Linked DNA regions of Homo sapiens: region 1 is linked to region 2. Evidence: fine-mapped expression QTL. A gene starts in region 2. The other region holds a variant in brackets. All regions are shown on one strand. Distances are from middle to middle. Region 1 overlaps HSPBAP1 (HSPB1 associated protein 1). Region 2 holds the start of LINC02035 (long intergenic non-protein coding RNA 2035).

Region 1 (4,398 bases), 130 kb before region 2:
TCCACAAGGATAGAGACCACACTCATCTGATTGACTCTTGCATCCACAGCGTGTAGCTATGTACCTGACACATTCTATGCCCTTTAATAAAGACGGAATGCATCAGAGAGTGGACTAACTTCTACCATTCTGTAATTCTCAGAGTTCTTCACATGTGAAATGTATCCACAGACATACTGACTATTTCTCCTGAATCTGCTCATAATCCTTTTCACATCTAATAGGTCTGAGAACTTGCACATGACCTTTTCTGTTTTACTCTCTGTGCTGCCCTGTAAATGTCCCACATGACCAGGAGAAAAGACTGGGGCATCATTAATTAGGGGAAAATAAGGCTGCACATACATCTGAGTACATCCTCCAAGTGGCACAAACACTTAGACTCTCATAGAACTCCAGAAACCAGGTATATCAAAAGCACTGCCTATCCCTCGTATCTTCTAGAGTCCACAGATAGATGGAGACAAAAACTGACCTAAGGTAACAATACACTGTATTGTGTCAAGTAGGCACAAACTAAAATTTAGAGTTGAAAGCGTCCAGTATTTTTCAAACCAGGATCGCTGGCATCCCTTGGAGAGGAGCTTGAGGGCAACAGTGAAGCCTCTTCCTTTCAACAAACTGCTCTGCTCTTATTTATTTAGATTTGAAGAAAGGGTGTTCCCATTTTTAAATAAAAGTTTGAAAACTACAAACTCTTATGTAAAAAAGAAAAGCTAAGCATAGGCTGGGCATAGTGGCTCACACCAGAACTTTGAGAGGCCAAGGCAGGAGTATGGTTTGAGGCCATACTTGGGCAACACAGAAAGACTCCATCTCTAAATAAAAAGTTTTTTAAATTAGCTGGGCATACTGGCACACACCTGTAGTCCTAGATACTTGAGAGGCTGCGGCAGGAGGATGGCTTGAGGTCCAGGAGCTATGATCATGCCATTGCACTCCAGCCTGGGCAACAGAGCAAGACTGTCTCAAATGTCTCTAATTTACCAAAAAAAAAAAAAAAAAAAAGACCAAGCAGAGAGCTGTCTAGCTGACCTGGGAGTGGAATCTCAGAGTTCTAGAATAAACTCTCTGAAGACAATCCTGATCATGACAAGGCACGCACCTGTAAACCACCATTTTAACTGTCCTCATTTCACAGAGGAGAAACCAAAACCAGAGGTTAAGAGGTCTGCCCTAATCATGAGGCAGGCTGACAGGATGGGGCTGGGACTACACCTTGGGGTATTGCCCTATTCTCTCTGCCACCCCTATTGCATGCATGCACATGTGCGTTCCACACACACACACACACACACACACACACACACATTACCTTCCTTGTACCTGGAATACCAAGTTACAACCATAGGAGTCCAGATGACAGGGTGTGTGGGCTCCCAAGGAGCCAATCCACAATGTACTTTCCTGTCCATTTCTTCCAGGAAACCCGAAGTCAGACCATTTCACATCCTGTTTTGAAATAAAGTTGCAATCCATCAAGAACTAACCAACTTCTCTGTATGGTAATGCTGCCCATTTTCACTTGCACATCTGTTATTTAGCAGTTGGAATATTCTATTATGGAAAATGCTACAGATGGAAGAGGTTAGGTTTCCAGGGCAGTTCAAGAAATCTTTTTAGCCAATAACATATTTGAATAACCACACTAATAGTAATCATTCAACAAATATTTACTGACTACTTACAACATGCCAGGCACTGTTCTGGAAGCTTGTAATGAATCAATGAACAAAAGAGACAAAATGCCTACTCGGATGAAGCTTACATTTCAGAGTTGGAAACAGACAATAAACAGACAGGATTATGCTGATATTTAGGGAAAGCGTGTTTTGGGCAGTTAGAACAGTGAATGCAGCGGAAATGGCATTATTTCAAATATCTCTGAGACACAACCGAAGAAGTCAGAAAGCCGTA[T/C]TTCCTCTAAGCAGTGCAGATATTTGTGTACATACGCAACTTACTAACTTTGTGTACTTCAATGACCACATAAATGAAGACTTCTCCTACATTAGTGGGGTTACTTAAAACTATCAATGCTGGAGCCTTAGCTCATACCTACTAGATCAGTCTTCAGATGAGGGTGTCAAAATACATCTTTTGAAATATACATCCATGGATGGCTTTCAATATACTCCCCAAAGTCATGAACTTCTTAAGTGCAATGATCTTTAGAACAGAGACAGCATAGTGCTCTGGACTTAAGACTCTCCATATGCCTGGTTCTGTGAGCAAATCCTGCCCAAGTCAACTACTGGGAAAAGCCTATACTTTTAGAAGCCGATGGCGCATTTGCAGCACAGAAAAATAGGGTCACACATAAACCCAAATCCATGTGATTAAACAGATTTATAAGCTAGAAAAGAAAAAAAACATACTAGTGAACCAGGCATGATGGCTCTGCCTTATTTTTATTTTAATCATGAGGTTTTCCTTTCAGTTTTAAAAAATAAAAGCAAAAAAAAAAACACCCCACTTCTATGTGCAGAACATCGTTCTCAATGCTGACACTCCTTTTATCAGTAACTACAGTCTAAATTTTCTATTTTTAGAGGGAAAACATTAACAGCTGTATTCAAAGAGAAAGGATTTTAAAGAGAAATTTAATGGATGGTTTTGAGGAAGACTAGAAAGAGCATTTTTTTTTTTCATTTTTGCTTTGAGTGATGAAAATGGCTGAATACGTGCACATAATTAATGTCTGTCATAGAAGGGGGAATTTTTGCAAGGTCAGCACCACTGTAAATGCACATGGCTCACATGTGGCAGTTCCAGTGGGTGGCAAAAATCCTGTTCTCTCTGCATGTAGCCTATAAGCTCCATACTGGGAGCTTACCCCTGTTTTCTCAATGCCTAATTTAGTACCTGGCTCAGGGTTACAGCTTGGAACACACTGGCTGCTTGGGAGGGAAAGAAGAATCTGTTGACTTATGATGGTTAAAATAGTTCAGGCCAATGACATTTTTGAGTACCTACCATATACGTGGTATGATGCTGGGTGCTGGGGATACAAAAATTAATATAACACAGGCCAACCCTTCAAGTCTAATAATGAGTGATAATCCCATAAACAGAGCCTTTCAATATGATGTAACAAGCGCTCTGACACAAGTATGCAGGGAATGCTTTAAGATCACAGCAGGAGGGCCCTGCACCCAGCCAGGGAGCTTAGGGGAGGCTTCCAATTAACCTGGTCCTTGTTGAACAATTTACCACACCTCAGTCTGAGGAATTTAACTAAAGGTAGCTGAAAGCCATTCAGTATAAAAAGGAAAAAAGAGAGACTTGCCTTAGCTAAGAAGAGATAGGTCATGTGATTCTTAATCTTATAGATACATCCCTTCAGGAATCTAATGAATACCAAAGCCCCTTCTCCTCAGAAAAAAGCACACACGAAACTTTATATATACTTTCAAAGAGGTGACAGACCAACCCCACATGAAAAACCCTGTTCTAGAGCCCTGCTTTGGAAAGAATCACTGAAGGTTTTTCTACAGGGTGAGGTTACTGTATGAGAAACTGAGGAGAGACTTCCCTGGCCTCCTGTCTAACAGTAATAATGACTTAAAAAGCAAAACTGTCAGCCAGGTGCAGTGGCTCATGCCTGTAATCCCAGCACTCTGGGAGGCTGAGGTGGGAGGACTGCCTGGGTCCAGGAGTTCAAGACCAGCGTGGGCAATGTTTGGTGAGGCTCTGTCTCTACAAAAAGGTTTTTTTTTTTTTTTTAACAAATTGGCTGGGCGTGGTGGCATGCACCTGTGGTCCCAGCTACTTGGGAGGCTGAGAAGGGAGGATCACTTGAGCTTGGGAGGTCAAGGCTTCAGGGAGCTATGTTTGCACCACAGCACTCCAGCCTGAGTGCCTGAGTGACAGAGCAAGACCTTGTCTCAAAAAAAAAAAAAAAAAAGCAAAATTGTCAGTGTAAAAATAGACAGCATTGAGAGTTGGGATTCTCTTCCCAATTAAGTTCAGCCACTTATGGGTAGTCAAATGTCTGAAGTCAATGTGGGCCCAGGAATCTGTCTTGAGTCTTGCTAGAAACAGGAGGCCCTGTTTGAGTGCTGCATCTGTAAAACCAAAAAGGGTGATCAGTGGGGTGATCTGTTCTGGAGTCTACTCATACATACCTCAAGAGTTGGAAAAATCTTTAAAAATCATCTATTCTCAGCAAGTTCTATTCTACACCATCCCTGAAAAGAGCGACAAGTAGCTAGCTAGTTGACCACTTACTACAAAATCAGTATCTACTTCCTGGTAGCTTACAGAGGAGGGTCCTAGATCTGCTTTCTATAACTAAAGAGAACAAGTTTATTTCCTGCCAAAAATTGCTATTTTTATCAGAAAACTGTCCAACTTCTCCTTTATCTTTTTTTTTTTTTAACCTAGACACAGCAGCATTAA
Region 2 (4,398 bases):
AAACTTTTTTTTAACCTAGCTAAAAAATGAAAGCATAGAATTGATTTCAGTAGCTTTGATGAAATAATCAAAACACATCAAGCTATTTTAACTCTAAACGTGCTTGCTGGACATAGTACATTGTAAGGCTTGGGACTCCAAAGGGGATACCAGAATATCAACCCAAACATCACAGAACTCTTCGCATTCCCTACTTTATAAATTCTTCTGATTTATAAAGACAGCTTCTGCAACCTTGAACAAAATGGCAAGGATAACTTGGAGAAACTGTCAGTTTACCTTAATGTTAGAAAATGATACTTCTTTTAAAGCACTATTTAATTTAGGCTTCATCTAATTCTAATTGGCTTTCTCATTTACCCAGAAGGATCATAGAATCAAAGAAATGATCTAATTCAGCCACCTCATTTTACAAATCAGTAGAGAACCTTTTAGGTTAAATGACACAGCCAGGTTTTAGCAGATCACTTGGCTCCTAGACCAGCATTCAATCCCTAAATGATCAATGTGTTAGCCATAAGTAATTCTTTTAAGTAATTTTTTTCATTTCTTTTAGAGTTTTGAAAATTACATGAGAAATACATGAGTGTATAACTATTATAAAATAGTACAGGAATAGAAAGTAAAGTCTACCTCCATACAAACATGCTGTTTAATCCATTCTCTCCAGAGGGTATCATCATTCATTCTTTCAGAAGAAACTTGTGTATGCATTTACATATCTATGTATAAAAACTCGGGGGGCATTTAAAATCGAGTCACCTAGGGATCTCTTTCTTGGACCATATTGGTATAAACTTTATGGGCAGAAGCAGAAGTTTCTGAGATCCTTATTTCTCTCCCAGATGAATCTGTCAGATGTAGCATATTGTGGTTAATGTAGGTGTTTCACAGACCTGCTTATGTACCATCAAGCTTTATCATATTCTAAAGTTCAAAAGTGAGTTCCAATATGCATTATTGAGTTGAGTTCCAATATGCACTATTGTGTTTTCTTACTGGAAATACAATTTCTGTTCTTAACACCATCAACTAAGCTCCCTGTACTGTGAGAAAAGAAAGTGAGTAACCGACCTATGAAATCCATATAGATTTCCTCCACAGGACTTTCTTGGCTTCCCTGTCTCTGCAGAGGCACACAATATTATAGAAAACAGAAGCCAAAAGAATAATCTTGTGCAATTTTTTTTTTTTTTTTTAGACAGGGTCTCACTTTGTCATTCAGGCTTGAGTGCCCTGGTGTGATCTCAGCCCACTGCAGCCTCAATCTTCCAGGCTCAAGCAAGCCTCCAGCCTCAGCCCCCCAAGTAGCTGGGACTACAGGTGTATACCACCATGCCAGCTAATTTTTTATATTTTTCGTAGAGATGGGGTTTCACCATGTTGCCCAGCCTGGCTTGTGCAATTTCGTTTTTTGAAAAAATAGCTAATGGAGATTCTGATAATTCTTATTGTTTCCTGGTCAACTTCTGTGTCTTTCCTAATTTTCAAGCTGTCAGTAGAAATGATGAACTGTAGCAGGCCAGAAGCTCAGCTTCATTTGGTCACTTTTTCCTTTCCTGTCTTCTTGCCCATCCAGCTTTCCCCTTTCTGATGGTGTCTTCTTATTTCTGACAATGCTTGGGAGCGAGCTGTGTGACACCCAGATTTTACGAGTTGCCAGCGGTGGAGAGGAGAGAGCCGGGCATGCAGATTCTTCATGGACCCTACTAGAGAGGACAGAGAAAAAGAGCACTGGTGTAGGAGCCCACGGGTCTGGCTCTTAACCCTGGCCTGGTGACTTCAGCTATTTGACCTTGAGCAAGTCACTTCATTTCTCCTTTAGCAACATCTCTAAAATGAGGGAGTGAGCAAAAATGTTCCCTTAGATTTCTTCTAATTCAGAAATACCAGTTGATTCTTATTTAAATATGAACATGACCAAAGCATGTGCAGTCTGTAAAGCTGGAGAGGTGCCCAGCACCTTGGTGTTTCCATTTGTGCGGTAGCCCCCCTCATGTGAGCCCTGTACGTGAACATATGAAATCTTATGCTGCATCCACATTCAATAAGAAGAAATTGCTTTTTCAGTGTCTGTGGGAGGAGATAAGCTGCAGGTGCTGTTTATTTTCCCAAAGGACTTTATATATGAAACACAGGGTTTATTAAATGTATCAAATGCAATAAGAGAAAAATCTGTCATCTGATGTTGAGATAGCATACTGGGAGCCAGGTCGGGGTACTGCATTTGCTCACCAGAATCAGATCAAACGAGATACGAGTCCTTTGGTTTGATTGGATTCATCATGAGGCAGCATGGGTTTGCACTTGTAGAAATCAAAACTGTTAGGTCAGGTAGTAAAGCCAATCCTTGAACTTACATCTTTAGTTAAGGCATCAAAGAATTGTAAGTTGCTTTGCAATGATGCCATCTCCACATGGTCAGATTCTTCCAGTAAACTGTGCAGATATTTTACAGAATAAGAGCTAAGTTTCAGCATGTCAAGGAATGATCTGTACTCAAGTGTTAGTAAACAAGGGTTTTTTTGTTTGTTTGTTTGTTTTGAGACAGTCTCTGTCATCCAGGCTGGAGTGCAGTGGCATGATCATAGCTCACTGTATCCTCAGACTACTGGGCTCAAGTGATCTTCCTGCCTCAGCCTCCTGCGTAGCTAAGACTACAAGCGCATGCCACCACCCCTGGCTAATTTTTTATTTTTTATGGAGAAGGGGTCTCACTATGTTCCCCCAAGCTGGTCTTGAACTCCTGGACTTAAGCAATCCTCCCACCTCAGCTTCCCAAAGAGTTGGGATTAAAGGCGTGAGCCCCCATGTCCGGCCAACAAGACTTCCTCGTGACTATAATGTGAGCATAATATTAATAGCTCTGAGAGAGAGAAGTGAACCAGAAGACCAACCTCAGTGTCAGGAAGTCTGGGCGTCTGTCTTCTGCATGGCTGAAGACATGGGGCTTTGGGCAAGTCATCTGTTCTCTTTGAACTTTGGCTTCCTCACTTCTGAAATAGGAGGGTCAGAGAAGATGTTTCTTTTTGCTGAAAAGTTTTACAGTTCTCTGATCTATACCCCTTGGTCACACACAACCAAAAAGTAGAAAACATGAGTGCAATACTTTTCCACCAGTACTCCCAGTTTATACATTATCTTCTCAAACCAATAAGGAACTTCTACAAGGCCCTGTTAGTGATGTGTTACAGGTGCCAGCATTAGGGAAACTTTCAGACTGTTATATCTATTCGTTCCTTCATCCATGTATACTATTCATTCTGTATGCAGAGTAATTTATATATGTACAATTACATGGCAGTGAAAGATAATCAGAAAAATGAAGTTTTTTTTTTTTTTTTGAGATAGTTTTGAGACAGAGTCTTGCTCTGTTTCCCAGGCTGGAGTGCAGTGGTGTGATCTTGGCTCACTGCAACCTCCGCCTCCCGGGTTCAAGGGATTCTCGTGCCTCATCCTCCCGAGTAGCTGGGACTACAGACATGCGCCACCATACCCAGCTAATTTTTGTATTTTTAGTAGAGATGGGGTTTTGCCATGTTGGCCAGGCCATTCTCGAACTCCTGGCCTCAAGCGATCCTCCTGCCGGCTTCCCAAAGTACCGGGATTCCAGGCATGAGCCACCATGCCCAGTCAGAAGGTTTTTTTTTAAAAAACACACTCCTGAACTAACAATTACAAAGAGCTAGTGACAATTTCCCAAATAATTATGCATAACAGGAGCCCATATATTGTTCTCAAATCATAAACCATAACTGATTTTGAGGAAAAGACATTCTGTCCCACTGATATTCTTTTCATGAGTAAGATCTGGATCTGTCTGGAGGCACAGAATTAATTTTTGCATGAGGAATCCCAACCCTACCATCATTCCATGGCTGAGGAATTGGTTATTACTCCTATGGGAAATTGGGAATGTTGTTGGTACCCCAGCCTTCTCTTAAGACAAAATTTAACAAATGCATACATGCTAAGATGCTTATACTCATAAGGCTTTGTGGGTCTCCTTTCTAAGGGGAATTTGAATACTAACAAGAACAAAGGCTAAATACCAAAAGGGGGCTTTCTAATGGTAGAATTTGGGATATCAGGTAGCCACATAGAGCAGGGCTACTTTGGGGGCTGGAGACTGCAGAAACCCTTCAGTTTATACGTGTGAGTAAACCTAATCACACTTGATGTATTGCTAGTGAAGTCCCAGCCCCCTGAGCCTTTGCAGAAACCCAAAGAATGCTAAAAAGGGCAGGTTTTAGTTCCTGCCAATTATTTCATTTACTACAAATGCCCCGAGTTCCGAATTTACTTCCCTCCCCACCAGAAATATGTCATTTTGGAGGCTTGTGAAAATTAAGCATTAAGAAAATCCCGCCTCCATCCTAATACACTGCATCCACAAGT

Evidence for each region. PIP is the estimated chance that this variant, and not a neighbour inherited with it, causes the effect.
Region 1: its variant is the best candidate, but not a certain one, in a credible set for the expression of LINC02035 in whole blood (TOPMed, PIP 0.76).

The regions. Positions count from the first base shown.
Region 1 is chr3:122,757,909-122,762,306 of GRCh38, forward strand. HSPBAP1 (HSPB1 associated protein 1) reads right to left here. Exons shown (of 8, transcript NM_024610.6): 4 at 1,316-1,452. Among named protein-coding and RNA genes, the nearest start is that of HSPBAP1, 34 kb to the right of the region's middle. The variant T/C (reference allele first, on the strand shown) is at 1,918.
Region 2 is chr3:122,884,251-122,888,648 of GRCh38, forward strand. It overlaps LINC02035 (long intergenic non-protein coding RNA 2035), which reads left to right and starts at 2,263. Exons shown (of 1, transcript NR_024618.1): 1 at 2,263-4,398.